5 linked regions of the Homo sapiens genome follow. The protein of the gene in region 2 purifies or fractionates together with the protein of the main gene of each other region. This does not show direct contact. Each region holds a gene or a part of one and is shown on either strand. Other genes may lie near its edges. The genes, in order: ACVR2A, RGMB, ACVR2B, ACVR1 and BMPR1A.

Evidence for each region.
Region 1: the proteins of RGMB (region 2) and ACVR2A purify together in Homo sapiens (affinity purification with western blotting, with the first as the bait; one study listed by BioGRID). This does not show direct contact.
Region 3: the proteins of RGMB (region 2) and ACVR2B purify together in Homo sapiens (affinity purification with western blotting, with the first as the bait; one study listed by BioGRID). This does not show direct contact.
Region 4: the proteins of RGMB (region 2) and ACVR1 purify together in Homo sapiens (affinity purification with western blotting, with the first as the bait; one study listed by BioGRID). This does not show direct contact.
Region 5: the proteins of RGMB (region 2) and BMPR1A purify together in Homo sapiens (affinity purification with western blotting, with the first as the bait; one study listed by BioGRID). This does not show direct contact.

Annotation. Positions count from the first base shown.
Region 1 is NC_000002.12:147,851,517-147,855,037, reverse strand, and holds part of ACVR2A (activin receptor type-2A isoform 1 precursor), read right to left. Parts: intron 1-3,521. UniProt on the Homo sapiens protein: On ligand binding, forms a receptor complex consisting of two type II and two type I transmembrane serine/threonine kinases.
Region 2 is NC_000005.10:98,790,658-98,793,844, reverse strand, and holds part of RGMB (repulsive guidance molecule B isoform 1 precursor), read right to left. Parts: intron 761-3,187; coding exon 92-760; 3' UTR 1-91. UniProt on the Homo sapiens protein: Member of the repulsive guidance molecule (RGM) family that contributes to the patterning of the developing nervous system. Acts as a bone morphogenetic protein (BMP) coreceptor that potentiates BMP signaling. Promotes neuronal adhesion.
Region 3 is NC_000003.12:38,460,390-38,463,910, forward strand, and holds part of ACVR2B (activin receptor type-2B precursor), read left to right. Parts: intron 1-3,521. UniProt on the Homo sapiens protein: Transmembrane serine/threonine kinase activin type-2 receptor forming an activin receptor complex with activin type-1 serine/threonine kinase receptors (ACVR1, ACVR1B or ACVR1c).
Region 4 is NC_000002.12:157,764,823-157,768,343, forward strand, and holds part of ACVR1 (activin receptor type-1 precursor), read right to left. Parts: intron 1,375-3,521; coding exon 1,099-1,374; intron 1-1,098. UniProt on the Homo sapiens protein: Bone morphogenetic protein (BMP) type I receptor that is involved in a wide variety of biological processes, including bone, heart, cartilage, nervous, and reproductive system development and regulation.
Region 5 is NC_000010.11:86,913,603-86,917,123, reverse strand, and holds part of BMPR1A (bone morphogenetic protein receptor type-1A isoform 3 precursor), read right to left. Parts: intron 1-3,521. UniProt on the Homo sapiens protein: On ligand binding, forms a receptor complex consisting of two type II and two type I transmembrane serine/threonine kinases.

The sequences.
Region 1 (3,521 bases), on a different chromosome or scaffold from region 2:
ATGGTGGCGCATGCCTGTAGTCCCAGTTACTCAGGAGGCTGAGGCAGGAGAATCACTTGAACTGGAAGGCTGGGGTTGTGGTAAGCCAAGATTGCACCACTGCACTCCAGCCTGGCCAACAGAGCGAGACTCAGTCTCAAAAAAAAAAGAAATAGGCAGATAAAGTAAACAGATGTGATATGTGATAAGGCAAATAAAGAGTAATCCTCTCGGCACCCTGTTAGTTTCTGTCCGAGCACGTATGACAATCTGTAATTATGTTGTTCATTTGACTACTTACTTTATGACTATAAGCTTCAGAAAGGCATAATCATATCTGTCTTCATGTTTAATAATGTATCCCAAGCACTTACCATAGTGTCTAGCATGTAGTTCAATATTGATTTGTTAAGTGAATGAATACCTATTTCACCCTCTTTAATTTAGGGTGAGTAAAGTGAAATCTTAATGGCTGTCAAAGGTCAAAGAAGAGTCAGTAGGAAAGTAGGAATTTGAATGACAGACTCTTAAGTTTTAGTCCAAAATATTATACCACATTCAAAATATTGATCTCAAAGTACAGTCATTGAATAGCTTTGTGTTTTCAAAGCTTAAAGTAGCTGGTACCTAAAAAACAGACTTGAGAATCTTTCAAAACTTTACTTCTACTAAAAAGTTTTAAAACACTTAAAAAGTTTAAGAGAAGTTGTCCAAGAAAAAAAGATATTTTAAATTCCCACTAATAAATAGAGACGATTTAGTCCATTGTTTCTTTTTAATGCATGCTAAAACAGTGAGACCTTAAAGAACTCTTTGTAAGGAACCACGATATCTGAATATTCTAGATATTTATTGGCAGCTATCTGGCTCTCTATAATGATATGTTCTTTGGCTGTATCATTTAGTCAGAGTATTATTTCACATTAACTGACTGATAAGTAACCTGCAAATGTAAATATCCCCCAAGAACCAAATCTATATTTTTTAATGTTTTACATACCATATCCTTTTAAATGGGACTTAAAGATAGATTAAAAACTAATATGTAAGATCTACTCTGGACCAGCTACCATGTTATGTGGAGTTATCAATTCATTTAATACATCTTGGTTTACAAATTTTAAAAGTTAATCTCAGAGTTTTAGAAATGTGCCAAGATCTCATAACTTGTCCATGCCCCTTCCTCTTGAAATAATGCCTTGGAGCAAGCTTGATATATCACATATAGTTATGAAGATGGGAAGAACAATAAACTTTTCCTTTAAAATAAAAATTTTAAAGTTAATAATCATAACTACGAAAACTCCTCCCTCTAAGCTTTATAAATAGGCTTACTTTTATTACAATATGTAAAGACTTGATTCATTTTTAAAATCTTTTGAAAGGCAACCCCTCCCCACATGTGTAGCCAGTCCTTCTAATGTAGTAACTCTCTTCTTGCTTTACATTTATTTTCTTTAGCAATATTAGAGAATAAAGTAATTCCCAGTGTGACTACAGCCAACCAAAGAAAAAACTAGTCCAAAAGAATGGTCACTGAAAAGTTTAGGTTTCAAGCGTGAATACCATATACCAAATTCAGAAAAGCATCTAAATCTACTTCCTTAGAACAGTGTATTTTACTGTAGGGTCTCATACAGATTTCAAAGAATATAATCTGGATGACCAGTATGAGTAATTACTGAAATTTGACCATCATTTAAACATAAACAACATATTGAGCCACTAATGTTTAGAATTCTTTAACTAGACTTCACAATGAAGACATATCCATCATACAGTGTCTGCCTCTTTAAGAGAATATTACGTTATCATGTTTTATTATGTACTCTTATTTTTCCAAATACATGTCTTTATTTCTATTCATGCTTATCATCTAAAACTATATCTATCTGTAAACTTTTTTAGTTATGAAGGCACTTTCAATTTTCCTCTGGCTCATTACTTCCTTACCAATTTTATTTAGTAGTGCTACCATTCTACCTTAGTCTTCGAGTTGCTTTTCAGTCCTATATCCACATATGGGGTATTTGGGACATACATCAGGATATGTATCATCCACTCTTACCTCCTCAGTTTTAATTACTTTTCATTTGAATTTAAGGGTTAACCCCCTGAGATTGTCCTACTTCTTCAAGCAATTGTGAACTCTCTTCATCACACAAATCTCTTCCTCAGATTTAGTCAAAATTTCTCCATCCCACCTTGCCTTCATCCATGGTCAAGTTTACTCTCAAATGGCTATTGTGTTCCTGATGCTATTTTGTGTCTTTTCCTTCATATTAACATCCTTCCTAATCTCCGTCTAAGACTTTTTTTCCAGTACTAAGTCCAGCAAGTCTTTCCTAAATTAAAAAATCCCAACTCCCCAAAATTACAATCTAATGTTGTTTCAGCGCCTTCGTGTGTGCTTAATTTATTCGACTAGTCCAAAAGAGAGAAGACCTTAATCAGGGAAGAGCCATGTTCTCCCTTGAGACCAGTTTTCCCTATATTCTATACCTAGGCACACAGTCTCTATTGTAGATTAATTAATGACCATATTTTTCAGTGCATATATTTTTCATTGCACACATTTACATATGAAGCTTCCTTTTCCACTAAGAGAGTACTGAATACAGGAAATAAGGATTGTTGAACTAGGTCACTGGTTTTAGGGATTTACAATCCATTAGTTGGTCAATGAATCAATTAATGGGTCACGATCAATGTTTTTTAAATGAAATGTAATATAAAAATACATAAGTGTCCTGCACATAGTTAAGAGTACACAGTTCATGAAACTTTCATTTCTGATGCACACAGACATATATACATACACCCCTACTACTACATGGGAACTAAGTCATAATGCAATGTGTAATTCCTATTGTGTATTACAGTCAAAAAAGTATGAAAGCCATGGAACATGAGGATACCTAAGATCCCCTCTAAATCTATATAATTCAAATTCTAATTTTAATTATTTAAAAAAATTTAAATTTGAACATAACTTAAAGATATCAAAACAATGAGCAAAATCATCTTTTCTTAATAAAATGTCACCACTGAACTCTAACCTTAAAATTATAGAACCATAAAGCTTTCAGAGTAGGAAAAAAAATCAGGGATCATCTAATCCAAGTTCACCACTTCAATACATTAAGAGGACAACCGTGGCTCAGAGAAGTGAAATAATTTCATTTCATTCATTTAATAAACATTTGCTGAGCACCTATTGTGTACCAGGTTCCAGGAATGGGTGTGTGGATAAAGGAAAGATGTCTTCAAAGAGTAGAAACAGGAAAGTAAACATTTGCACAGTCTAAAGTGGAAACAGGCAAGTAAACATTTGCAATTATTACTGAAATCAAGGTCATTTACAAGGTGTTAGATGAACAGAAAGCAACTAACTCAATCTGGGTTGAGTGACAGAGAAAATGTTTCTAAAGAGGTGATACTTCTCAGTCTTAAAACCAAAAAGGGGTTAGCCAGGTAGAAGAGGAAGAGTAATATGTACAAAGGCACCATACTGATATACAATAAAGGATTACACATTTAAG
Region 2 (3,187 bases):
TATATACTCTTTTACTCAATATATTATGACAATATATATTTTAAAATTTTGTTATAGACAAAAAATAAAAAACCAAAACAAAAGACAACCCCTACAAAAACACGATAAGGATCAAGCAGGTGAGTCCTAGACTGACAGACAAATCACTGCCTCCACGGGGAGTCCCATTGCCACTGCTGGGGAAAATGTGCCAGCGTTCCTTCCTTGGGTGCAGGGCCTCCACATCCTCCAAGGCACTGTGGGCTGCGGCAGTAAAGTTGGCATCACCAGTGGTGAGCAGGTCGAAGACACAGGACTGGAAATAGATGTCCTTCACTGGCATCTTCTCATGGCATTGAGTGTTGGCAGTCTCCAGTGTGTAGCCAGGCCAGGCCTGCACCAAGGAGGTGCGAGGCAGGCTGTGTCCCAGGATGGCAGACACCTGGCCCTGCCCGTCATCGATGCGTTCACTCAGGGGGCAGCCGTTCACGCACAGCTGCAGGTCCTGGCTCTCCTCGTAGGACATGGCCAGGTCTTCAGGCATACGGATGGCAAGGGTCAGGTAGCGACCCACCTGCCGCACAAACACTGTGGTCCCTATATAGCGGGCGTGCATCTCCACATAGTGGCCACTCTCCCTTTCCACGATACGCAGGCTCTTGGCATCGCTGTCCCCACCACTGGTGGTGCCATCCACAAAGGCGGCCGGCAGGTCATCTGTCACAGCTTGGTAGACTTTCTGATCTGTACACTCATGGTGGGCTTTGAAGATAATAGTGATCTGTGGGAAGGAGCATGTACAAGGTTTAACAGAATGGGAAGGAAGCAGAACGGGGTAACCCTCTGTAGCAAGAGCTCCCCGCCATTTTGAAGCTGAATGGCTTAAGGCGGAATCTCCAAAATGGACCCAACTGCTTGCACCTCAAAAATGGATATCACTTTCAGAAAATATTTTTTAAAGTCCTATATATTTAGAACTAAAGTTTAAATAAATCTGTGCATCAAGACAAAACTTTTTTACTTTCCTAAGAGAAAGAGTGAGCAAGTGAGCAGTGTTGCTATCAGAATATCGGTTTTTTTTTTTTTTTTTTTTTAAGTGACAGGGTCAGCTCTCTTGCCCAGGCTAGAGTGCGGTGGCACATTCATAGCTCACTGCAACGTTCAACTCCTGGGCTCAAAGGACTTTCCCACTTCAGCCTCCTGAGTACACAGGACTAAGGGCATATACCACCATGCGTGGCTGATTTAAAAAACTTTGAAGTGAGGGGGTTGGTGGGGGGCGGGGGGGATGGTGGAGGTCGGGGGTTCCTCACTACGTTGCCCAGGCTGGTCTTGAACTCCTGGCCTCAAGCGATCCTCCCACCATCATCTCCCAAAGTGCTGGGATTACAGGCATGAGCCACTGTGCCAGGCCAGATTATGGGCAATTTTTATTGATAATTTATATCTTGTCTGCTTCCAAAGTGGATGAGTCATGGCATAGTTCTGAGAAAAGAAAAAGGCTCGTTTCTGAGTTATTATGCAGAAACTTTAAAGGGCTTAATTAACAATATACCTAACAGAACTTTGCTTCCTACCAAGATTCTTCATAGGATTAAAAAACTGTATCCCATGACTCACCACTACAAACTTACTCGAAATACAGAGAGAAAGAGTTGAGGAGGGGGCACCCCAGTAACAGCCACCACTCATGTACCCCAGGAAAGATTTCTATTAGTCCCTTAATCAAATGTTTCACATCACTGGCTAATCCCTGCGACAGGGAAATCACCTGGCAAATATAGCTCCTAAGCACTGGCAGAGACTGAATACCCTAAACCTAGTTACAGCAAATGTTTTCCCAAACAGCACCAGAGTCCCTTAACTCCTCAGAAATCTTTTCCCAGCCAACTCTCGATTCTCCAAACTAAGCACATAAATTCATCAAAGAAAAAAAATTACTAATAATACAAAAGCTTCTCTTTTGTAAACCCATGTTCTTTCCTGCAGAATCCTTTAATTAGAACAGTTAGTTAAAAACCTTGCACACCTTCACCTCCAACATATCCAACATCTCTGGTACAGGTGGTGGAGGGAAGACAACTATGATAAGACAGGGGCTGCTGTGTCACACAACATGGAGAAACTATTTCAAAGAAACAAAAAAAGACCAGATTTTGAGAATTGTATCATTGCTAGTAACTGAGGCAACAGGGTTCTCTCTTCCTTCTTGAAAAAACAAAAAGTATCAGGTGACTTCAGTCAGGAGGAAGGTAGACAAGCCAAACACTCTATGAATTACTCGGGATGGAGGAAACCTTCTACCTCCTGCAAGGAAACTAATCGAAACAATAGACCCTTGTGAAAAAGACCAGAAAATGCACCCCCCTCCCCCCGCCTGCCCACCCGAAGTCCTCACCACCACCCTCAAGTTTATGTCTTAAGTTTTTCTCCAACTCGGCCAGCATTTGCTCACACTATTTAATTCCACTTGTTCCCACTGGTGTTACTTGACTGGAATTTTCCAGCCATTTCATTTTACTTCAGCCAGTTATAAAGCCAGATCTGAACCAGCTGCACTGTAGCAACCGGTTAAATTCATATCCGCTGTGTGCAGCTGCAACTAAAAGCCAGACAATGTACTATGAAAATGCTGGGTTTTCTCCCTTCCTAATTACCCTGAGCCACAACTTGATTTCACTACCAGCCTTCTCACATTTCAACACCTTCTTAACAACCCAAAGGAGGTGCATCAGAGATGATTTCAGGAAATTTGTTGTGCATCCAACCATAGGACCTTTCAGAGTGAATGGGGGTTTTGAGCTAGATATCTAACGGGACCATAAAATAGATTTATTTGGTGGCTCTAAAATCCGTTGACAAGTGTTTTTTTTTAAGGCATGCTGGGATCCCTTGGAGATGAAAAGATTGATTCAAGAAAATTTTGCACCTGAAAAAGTTGAAAGTCAACAATACAGATGGCTAAAATAAGAGTTAGTAATAGACTTTTTATATAATCACTATGCTCATTTTCACCTGTAACATCTACTCAAAGATTAAACTCTTCAATGACGGCTAAATAATTCGTCTTTCTAGTCTAACAAACCTAAAATTTAAACCAACTTGATATTATCTGCAAGAACTACTTTTTTGTTCACCTTAGGAAAAACAAAGAGGATTTACTTGTGTTGGGCCAACAAAGCAAAGATAACCGATTCCAAACAAGTTT
Region 3 (3,521 bases), on a different chromosome or scaffold from region 2:
CTCTATTACATTGCTCAGTGATGTCTCTGACTAAGGCAGTGGTAGGTACTGGAAATCAATGGATAAAGCAGGCTGGGATTGTTCAAGGGTCAGCCATGTCTCTTCCCGGCCCAGGACCAATAATGGCTTCCCGCCTTCGGACAGCCCCATGCTTTCCCCTGGTTATTCTAGGCTTGCTGTACACATGCATGTGCCTTTTTCAGATTCTTTCTGGGACTGGCAGCTCCAACTGGGTGTTTTCATTCATGGACGCATGACCTCTGGAAGCGGGTGTGGAAAGGAAGCCTGTCCCACTGGGCAAATGTGAGGCCCTCTTCCCAGGGGAATGTTGTCTGGATGGGTCTGACCTGCTGGACAATGGGCCTTCTCCCTGGCCAGTTTCTGGGCTGGAGCTGAGGTGTTTTGTGAGGCGAGCTCATGCTCTTTGCATGTGTTCCTCTGCCGACTATTTCAGTTCCACTCTGACAACCAAGGAGGCTAAAATTAGTTCTGGAGAAGGAAAAGGAAGGCTGGTTGGAAACCCAAGCCCTTGGCTGGAGAATGGAGGAGGCTGCTTCCCAGGTTTGTGCCTGAGCATTTCGGAGGATGGGATGAGACCAGCTGTTATCCGTCCATCTGAGGAGAAGGAGGGGTCCCTGTGGCCTCCCAGACTTGAACCAATTAAAACAGGAGACTAACTTGGAAGCTGACTCTCTCGAGTGTTGATGCCAGGATATTTTTTCCTTCTGGCTTGTGCAGTGGCGCACAGTGTTTTCAGGTATGAGGACAATGCCTTTTAATGAATGTCCAGTGCCATTGACAACCCTCCTCCCCCTCCCCTCCAACTGGATTATGTGTCCGTTGATTTAGAAAGCATGCATGAGTTTTCCCAGCCTGGGCTGGCAACCATGGTTTAAGAACTCTTATTTTATGCACTTTTTGGGAATTTCCTTCTCACTGAGGTTTGATATTGGGTTAGAGGGGAGTCCTGTGGCCCAGGGCTCACACAAGAGGTCCCGCTTCTCTGTGTAGTGAGGGCATAGTGAATCAAGGCTCATCTGCTCTGGGCCTTAGAAACCAGAGGAGCAGAAGGGTTAGAGAGATGAATTCTGGTTTCTTTTCCCACCTGGCTGGCTCCTTCTGTGAACCTTCTGGCTGAGGGTGAGACCTACAGGGCTGTGTGGGAGTAGAAGGAGGGCCAGGGCAATGTAGTCCTATCTCCCCTGCCCTGAAACCTCGCATCCAAACCTCCCATCACTGAGAGGTTAGCCACCCTGGGGTATAGTTGGGGGAGTAGAAGTCACTTCCCCCATAACTAATTTTCCCATTTAAAAAAAATTTATTACTTTTTAAACAAGTAATATACCTACATTATATTGCAGAAATTTAGATGTTACAGATAATACTAGGGTCTCCTTTTATCACTTCTGTTCCCCATCCGAGGCCCCCTCCAAAGGTAATCCTTTTAAGATTGAGATGTATTCTTCCAGACATTTTTACTTGTGCATCTATAGAAATACTTATAGAAATAGAGAGGCTTTTGGCCGGGCGTGGTGGCTCATGCCTGTAATCCCAGCACTTTGGGAGGCCAAGGTGGGCGGATCACCTGAGGTCAGGAGTTCAAGACCAGCCTGACCAACATGGAGAAACCCCGTCTCTACTAAAAATACAAAAAATTAGCCCGGCGTGGTGGTGGGTCCCTGTAGTCCCAGCTACTCAAGAGGCTGAGGCAGGAGAATGGCGTGAACCCGGGAGGCGGAGCTTGCAGTGAGCCAAGATAGCACCACTGCACTCCAGCCTGGGCAACAGAGCGAGACTCCATCTCAAAATAAATAAATAAATAAACAAACAAATAAATAAATAAATAAATAGGCTTTTTTCCACCTAAAATGGTATTCAAGCATTTAATTGAAGTATAAAACATATACAGAAGAATGTACAAGTAATTACCATAAGTAACAGCTAAGAAGCATTTTCACAAATTGAATACACTGGTTTAGTCAGCATCCAAGTCAAGAATCAGAAATTTTCCAGCCCCCCATCCCCAGCAAGCCCTGTTTTGTTCCATTTCAGTCTCTGCCCACACCCACTAAGGTTAACTACTATTCTAACTTCTAACAGCATAAAATAGTTTCATCTGTTTCTGTGCTTCATATGAATAGAACCTTACAGAATAAACTGCTTTGTGTCCATCTTTTCCTCACCATGTTTGTGACTTTAAGCTATGTTGGATGTCATGGCTTTTTAAACTCGGAGATTTGCTTTGGCAAACTTTCTGATACATATGGATCTACTTTGATCTTTTTAATAACTACGTAATATTCTAAAGTTTAAATATAGACTACATTTTACCTAGTTTCTTACTGATGGACTTTGTGATTGTATAGAATGTATGCAGACTGTTTCTCAAGAGTAGATGAGAAAATAACATCTGGATCATAAGCACGTATGTTATTGGTTTTAATAGATACTGAAAAATGGTTATACCATTTTATTTATTTATTTTTTGAGGCTACCCAAGTGATGGCAGTGAGGGTAGAAGCTGGGTGATATGGCAGTTGGCTCTCTGCGGTAATCTGTGAACATCCTTCCTACCTCCACACCCCAACCCCTGCTGAAATGCTAGGTTACAGAGTTTAGAAATAGCCTGGTTTCATGAAGGGTGCGCGGACATGGGAAGGGCTCACTTCCACTGGCTTAATGTATGAGGAGACCTGGAGATAACCTCTCGTGCCTGTGTCTCCTACCTTGTGCCTGAGTCTCCTGGGTACTGTGCTGATGAGGGAGGTAGCACTGGACTAGCCAGGATGTGCTGGTCTGGGTTTGGGATGGAAGTGCATATGTATGTTCACTTACCAGGCTCTATGCTGCGTGCAGACTCTGAAGAGACTAAGGCACTTGTTGAAGGTCGCTGAAGAGCTCTGGGTAACAGCACTACTGGCAAGCCCACTGCATTTGACAAAATCTGAGTGTGACAAATTCTGATTTCATATGTCGTGATAATGACGTTGGGGGTATTGGAGAAACCTGTAGAAAAACTATTTTAGAGTCTGGTGAGAAGCTTTTCATGACAGAAGGAGCTCTGGTGAGTTTCTGTTCCTGGCTGAGTGTATGCCTTGTTCCCTGTATAAGTCTCTGCCACAGTTGGCAGAAGACTTAGGGAAGATAGTTTGGGATGACTTGTTCACCAAAGCTGTTGCTTCCCAGTCTTGTTCTTCAGCTTGCTGCCTACTCTTTACTGTTATGTTGGGATTCTTTATGTAAGTCCACTTGTCAGGCCCTGCTAATGGATTTAGATGACACTCAAGTTTGTGGAACTGTTTCTAGTACAAATGATACTCCAATCAGCTTTCCCACATTATACATATGATGTGCGCTGTTTGTGTCTTAGTCTGCTCAGGTTGCCATAATGGAATACCATAGATTGGGTGGCTTAAACAACTGAAATTTCTTTTCTTACAATTCTGGGGACTGGAAGTTAAAGATGAAGGTGCTGTCAGGATTCGTTTCCAGTGATTCTTCTCTCTTGGGTTGGCATATGG
Region 4 (3,521 bases), on a different chromosome or scaffold from region 2:
ATGCTTATCCTAAAATCTTTCGTCTCCTACTTGGGAAACATTGTAATTTCTCAATGTAAAAGCAAAGACTTTAAAGGGATTCAAAGGAAATAAATTTTCCTAACATGTCAAATCCCTTATGTTTAAAAACAAACAAAAATAAACTTTGTTATTTACATAACTAAAGCTATTTTTGTCTAAACCTTTATCAGGCTAACAATAATTGCAATAATATAAATATCATATAAACCATGTTTAATCAAGTAGAGGGCCCTGAATTCTCATTAGCACAATTATTTAGCCAATATTCTAGGAATCCAGGAAGAACATGGTTTTATATAAAATGCCACTATAAATGAAAATACTCTTATTTATAATGCAACTAAAGCTACACTGAGTACTACTCTAACACCATAAGAATGAGCTATCCTAACAGGGAAAAGAGTGAATCAGTTCGGGGATTATTTTCCTATTTCTTAACTTGATTCTTTTGCCTTGGTTACAGAATGATTTTAGAGACCACTTTTAAGATAAACTAATTCTATAGAGTATTTATTGTGCACCTACTTTATGTGAAGGTTAGTGAAACCAAAATGCAACAGTACTGGTTACTTCTGAGGTGGGGTGTGGCAGGGACTGACTGAATGAGCCTGAGGTAACTGTCAAGAGTAATGGGAAACTCTGTATCTCGACAGGGATTTGGGTTTTACAACATTTGTCAAAACTCTTAAGATTTGTATATCTCACAGTATATAAATTTTACCTGAAAAAAAGAAAAAGCAAATAATGCATTCTTGTCAATGATATACTAGTGTACATGCTGAAATCATCAGAAGAAAGAATTCCTTTGTCTGCAATTTACTTTCAACTCTATCAAAGGTTGATATGGACTGATGGATGGGGAGATGAATAGATGAATAAATACATAATAATGCTTAAGGATAGTAAAATGTTAATGTGAGAATCTATGTGGTGGGTATAAAGGTGTTCATTGTAAATGTTCAACTTTTCTGCATGTTTGAAATTTTGCATAACATGTTGTGGGGGAGAGATGCAACTCACCTAACCATTGAAACAAAAATAAAACTGGTGAGGAAAAAAATATTTTTAGAAATTTACCCAAATCTGCTATGCAACACTGTCCATTCTTCTTAACCAGAATATTTTTGCTCTTTAAATCTCGATGGGCAATGGCTGGTTTCCCTTGGGTCCCAAATATCTCTATGTGCAAATGTGCAAGACCACTAGCTATGGACAGCACTATTCGAAGGCAGCTAACTGTATCCAGAGTAGTAAGCTGAAGATAGTCGTACAACGATCCCATTTCATGATAATGTGTAATTAACCACAGCTGGGTACTGGAGTGTCTTGATGTCATGTCTGAAGCAATGAAACCTGGAGAGAGCAAGAAAAAAATTAATATACATGAGGATTCCACATTATAACTTAAAGTATTTAGAAATAGCGACCTACACAGTAAATGTCATCTGTAACAAAAAGTAATTAAACTGACCAATTGCCCTAAGAGGAGGTTTACAGAAGCATCAACAGAGAAAAATAATAGCATTTATTCCTTAAAAGGGCACTGCTAATAGGAAAATTTCATATTCATTTCATTATAAGTAATACTTTAAAAGATATTTTACATTCCTTAAGTTTCAGATAGCAATAATATCTTTGTGCTCACCCATAATGATAGTGCCAAGCCCTTCAGCATGTTGATATTTTAGGAACAGACCATTCATCAACCATCCTAAAAGAACATCAAATCTAAAACCTGAGTACTGTATTCTAGTCCTGACTCTGCCTGTGATTTACTTGTCTAATACTGGGCAACTCAGTTAGGCTCCTTAGCCTATATCTGCTCAGATGTAAAATAAAGGGGGCAAGTTTACATTAAATGATTGACTGATTCACGAAATAAAAAAAGAAACCAACCAAATATATGAGTATTTATGATGCTATCTGTCAGTCACACACAGAAAAACCAAGATGATAGTGTTTGCTGGCTAAAGAAGACAGATGTAAAAACGAAAACACTACAATAAAATACGAAAAGTACTATAATATATATCTTCAAAGGGCAACATGAGCCCAGAGCAGGAAATTATAGTAATTCAGACTAGGTGTTACAATAGGCTTCCATTAGGAAGTGGCAACTCAACTGGTCTTGAAGTAAAGTGAGTGACTGACAAATGTGGATGAAGAGGTTGGAGAAGATTTTTCTTTTTCTTTTTCTTTTTTTTTGAGACGAAGTTTCCCTCTTGTTGCCCAGGCTGGAGTGCAATGGCGCGATCTCGGTTCACTGCAACCACCGCCTCCTGGGTTCAAGTGATTCTCCTGCCTCAGCCTCCCGAGTAGCTGGGATTACAGGGGCCCACCATCACGCCGGGCTAATTTTTTATATTTTAAGTAGAGATGAGGTTTCCCCACGTTGGCCACGCTGGTCTCAAACTCCTGACCTTCAGGTGATCCACCTGCCTTGGCCTCCCAAAGTGCTGGGATTACAAGCGTGAGACATCGCGATCAGCCCGGAAGAGATTTTTCTAGACATCTGGAGGGAACTTTTGAGCATGCAGAAGACTGTCTGGAAGTTAGGGGCACTTCCTATCTTATGAAATAAATTGTGACGTGTGCTTGCCTTTTCTGCTACAGAGGTGCCTTTCTAGGATTATTCTCACATATATGAACCACGCTGGTAGACAGTGAAGTTTGGGACTTAAAAAGAGGTGAGAAAAAAAATTTTTTAAGACGGATATGGCTTGAGGAAGAATTAAATGACTTATGAAAATGTAAGAGAAAATACATTAAAATGCTTTATACTTGCATAGTACTTTATATAAAATTTATGTCACTTTCACATATATTTTCTCATGAGATTTTTCCCAACAAGCTGGTAAGAAAGACATCATTATGCTCATTTTACAGATAATAAAGTTGGTGCTGGGAGATGCCAAGGATCACACAGCTATTTAAGTTGCTATCAACTCTGAATTTAGTGCTAGCTGTCCTGATACCTTGCATAGGAAGGCTCTGTGAGCCAAGAAAGGTCCCCTATTTGATCATCATCATCATCGGCAACCACAACAGAGGCAGCTAATAATTATTGAGTACTACATGCCTGGAACTTTATATGCAATCCTCCAAAAACCACATGAAGTAAGTAGATCGCATAATTGATATTAGGTTCCTGTAGGTCTGATTCTAGAACCCAGACTCTTACTGACTATGCCATACTGTCCCCAAACAAACTGATTTCTACTCAGAGAAAAAATAATTTCACATTTTCACCTATGGGACATATGCAAAGCAAACTGAATAATATTTTAGCACCTTCACCCTCTACTTCTTTCTCTCTCTTCCTCTAAGCCTATTCCCATGGCCAGCCCTGAGTCTCCCACTCCTTCCCTGCTCCCCAGTCTGCTTTTCCCCTCGATGCTGCTTCTCTTGGAGCCCTTAGCTGGCCACAATATGCATCAAAATGTGTTCTTGGACATTAGTTATTCTTAATAAAGAAAATGTTTCTGCTTTAACAGTTTGAA
Region 5 (3,521 bases), on a different chromosome or scaffold from region 2:
AAAAGTAAAAGGTTTGAGCTCTTGATGAAAGAAACCCATTAAGACTGGCAAAGGGGTAGTCCATCTCATCAAAAAGCATGGTGTACCCAACCAACTCCAGTTAAAAACTTATAATGTACTTTTTTTTTTTTGAGATGGAGTCTCGCTCTGTCACCCAGGATGGAGTGCAGTGGCGCGATCTCGGCTCACTGCAACCTTCACCTTTTAGATTCAAGTGATTCTCCTGCCTCAGCCTCCCAAGTAGCTGGGATTACAGACACCCGCCACCATGCCCAGCTAATTTTTTTGTATTTTTAGTAGAGATGGGGTTTAGCCACGTTGACCAGGCTGGTCTTGAACTCCTGACCTCAGGTGATCCACCCCACCCCCGGCCTCCCATAATGCTGGGATTACAGGCGTGAGCCACCATGCCCGGCCATAATGTACTTTAAAGTATGAAACAATGTACAATGTATTCTGAAATCATAAACAGGTTATTCAAGTGGCTGGCTGTTTGCAAAAATGGTCATAATAATTACCCTCCCAGTGCACACAGTCGTGGGTAGTCTTGGTCCACAGACTCAGGGCTTAGGCCACATGACTTGCTTTGGATAAAAGAACAACAGCGAACGTGATGCAAGCAAAGACCTGACAAATGTTTGTGGACTGGGGCTTGCCCCCTTCCTGCTGCTTTGGGAACCCTGTGACCAAAAAATAATGGCAGCATGAACTGTCGGCCAAGGGTGTGAACTACACCACCTAGCTCTAGCTAAGCAAGTCCAACAAATGAACTGCCCCACAGACTCACAGAATGAGAAATAATGTTTGTTGCTTCACATCACTAAGTTTTGGGGTGGTTTATTATGCAGCAAAGTCCAAATAACAGTTAAAGATCTTAAAAATCCCATCTATAAGACCCTGCCTGATCTGGCCTGGTCCCATTATTTGCTTTGACCACCCACCCACAAACCTCGTTTGACTTATCTCAACTTTTAGAATTCACTCAAGCTTATTCCTGTCGCTGGGTTTTTTTGAATATCCAGTTCCCTTTACTTAGAGTGCTATTTTCTCACTTAAACACCTTCATAGCACACAAAACCTCTCAGTTGCTGCGCTTAACACAATCATAACTTTATTCTTATTTACATATATATTTGCTTGAATTCCATCCCCTGCTCACAGAATATAAGTATTTATTTGGGACAATATCAGAAGTACTTTAATATTTGTTAAATAAAAGATGTACATGGATTGTTATCTTTCATTTTCAGAAGCATTAGTGATCATTCTAAATTAAAAAGAACATTATGCTCCAAGTTGGAAATGCTTCTAAAATGGACTAGATTTAGTGCAAAGCTAAAGTGACTTTATGTATCATTTATTATAGAATCCTTTTGTAAATTTTGTTCTGTTTTTTTGAGACAGAGTCTCGCTCCGTTGCTCAGGCTGGAGTGCGGCGGCCAATCTCAGCTCACTGCAACTTCTGCCTCCCCAGTTAAAACAATTTCCTGCCTCAGCCTCCCGAGCAGCTGGGATTACAGGCATCTGCCACCACGTCCAGCTAATTTTTGTATTTTTAGTAGAGACAGGGTTTCACCATGTTGGCCAGACTGGTCTCGAACACCTGACCTCAAGTGATCTGCCTGCCTCAGCCTGTAAGTTTTTAAGTCAAGATTATTGAGGTATAATTTATATAAAATGTACCCTTTTTGAGAAAAGTTCAACAAGCCTTGGACAAATCTATATCATGTAATCACCAATACCACAATTAAGATACAGAATATTTTAATAACGTAAAAAAATTCTCACTTTTTGGCCAGGCGTGGTGGCTCACGCCTGTAATCCCAACACTTTGGGAGGCCGAGGCGGGTGGATCACCTGAGGTCAGGAGTTCAAGACCAGCCTGGCCAACATGGTGAAACCCTGTCTCTACTTAAAAAAAAATACAAAAATTAGCTGGGCATGGTGGTGCATGCCTTAATCCCAGCTACTTGGGAGGCTGAGGCAGGAGAATCACTTTTGTGTAGCCTTTTGTGTCTGGCTTCTTTCATGTAGCATAAAGTACTTTTGAAATTCACCCACTGTTGCTGCTACATGTGTTAGAAGTTGTTCCTTTTTACTGATGAGTAATATTCCACTGTATGAATGTACCAGCATTTGTTTATTCATTTAGCAATTCATGAGCTTTGGGGTTGTTTCCAGTTTATGTCTATTATAAATAAAACTGCTATAAACATTCACATTCAGGCCTCTGGTGTGGACAAGTTTTCATATCTCTTGGGTAAATAATTAGCAGAAGGATTGCTTCATTGTACGGAAAGTATGCCCTTAACTTTCCAGGCAATTGTCAAACTATTTTTCAAAATAGCCATACCATTTTGCATTCCAACCAGCAATGTATGAGATTTCTAGTTGATCTACATCTTTGGCACCACTTAATATTATCAGTCTTAGCTATACTAGTGGATGTGCAGTAGTATCTTACTGTGTTTAATTTGTATATCCCTGCTGATGCTGAGCATCTTTTCATGTGCTTGTTTGCCATTCTTATATCTTCTTTGGGGAAGTGTCTGTTCAAATCTTTTGTCCATTTTTTAAAAAAATTGGGTTATCTTATTATTGAGTTGCAAAAGGTCTTTATATATTTTGCACAAAAACCCTGTATCAGATCTGTTTTGCCAATCTGTGACTTGTCTTCTCATTTTCTTGTCTTCTAAATAGCAGAAGTTTTAAATTTTGATAAAGCCTGATTTATCATTAAAAAAATGATTTGTGTTTTTTATGTACTGAAGAAGTCTGCCCAAGGTCAGAATAATTTTTTCAGACATTTTCTTTTAGAGGTTTTATACTTCAACTTTTACATTTAGGTCTATGCTACATTTCAAGTTAATTTGGTATAGAGTGAGGAGGTAAGGACTGAGATTAACTTCTTGGTAAATGGATTCCTGATATTTCCTGCACCATCTGTTAAATGGACTGCCTTTTTCCAATTGAATTACTTGGGCATCTTTTTGTTTTTTTTTTTTTAATCAATTAACCATATTAAGTGCATGTTCCTTTCTAAACTCCATAATCTGTTCCATTCATCAATACATCTATCCTTATGCCAGTACCAAATTGAGATCATTATTGAGTTTTACGGTAAGTCCAGAAATCAGGTAGTGATTCCTCTTTGTTCTTCTACTTCAAAATTGTTTTGGCTCTTCTAGTCCTTTGCATTTCCATATAAATGTTAGAATATACATCAATTGCTATAAAAGTTTGCTCTGATTTTCATTTGGATTCGAATGAAATTACACACCAATTTGAGGAAAACTGAAATCTTAATACTGAGTCCTCAGATTTATAAACATCTCCACTTATTTAGGGCTTTATTAATTTCTTTCAGCAATGTTTTATAATTTTCAGTGTGCAGGTCTTGCATAAATTGTTAGGCTTATTCTAAATATTTCATGGTTTTTGATGCTATTTTAAATACTGTTTTTATAATTACCTAATTGTTTGTTGCTAGAGCCTATAAATTCAATGGTATTTGTACAATG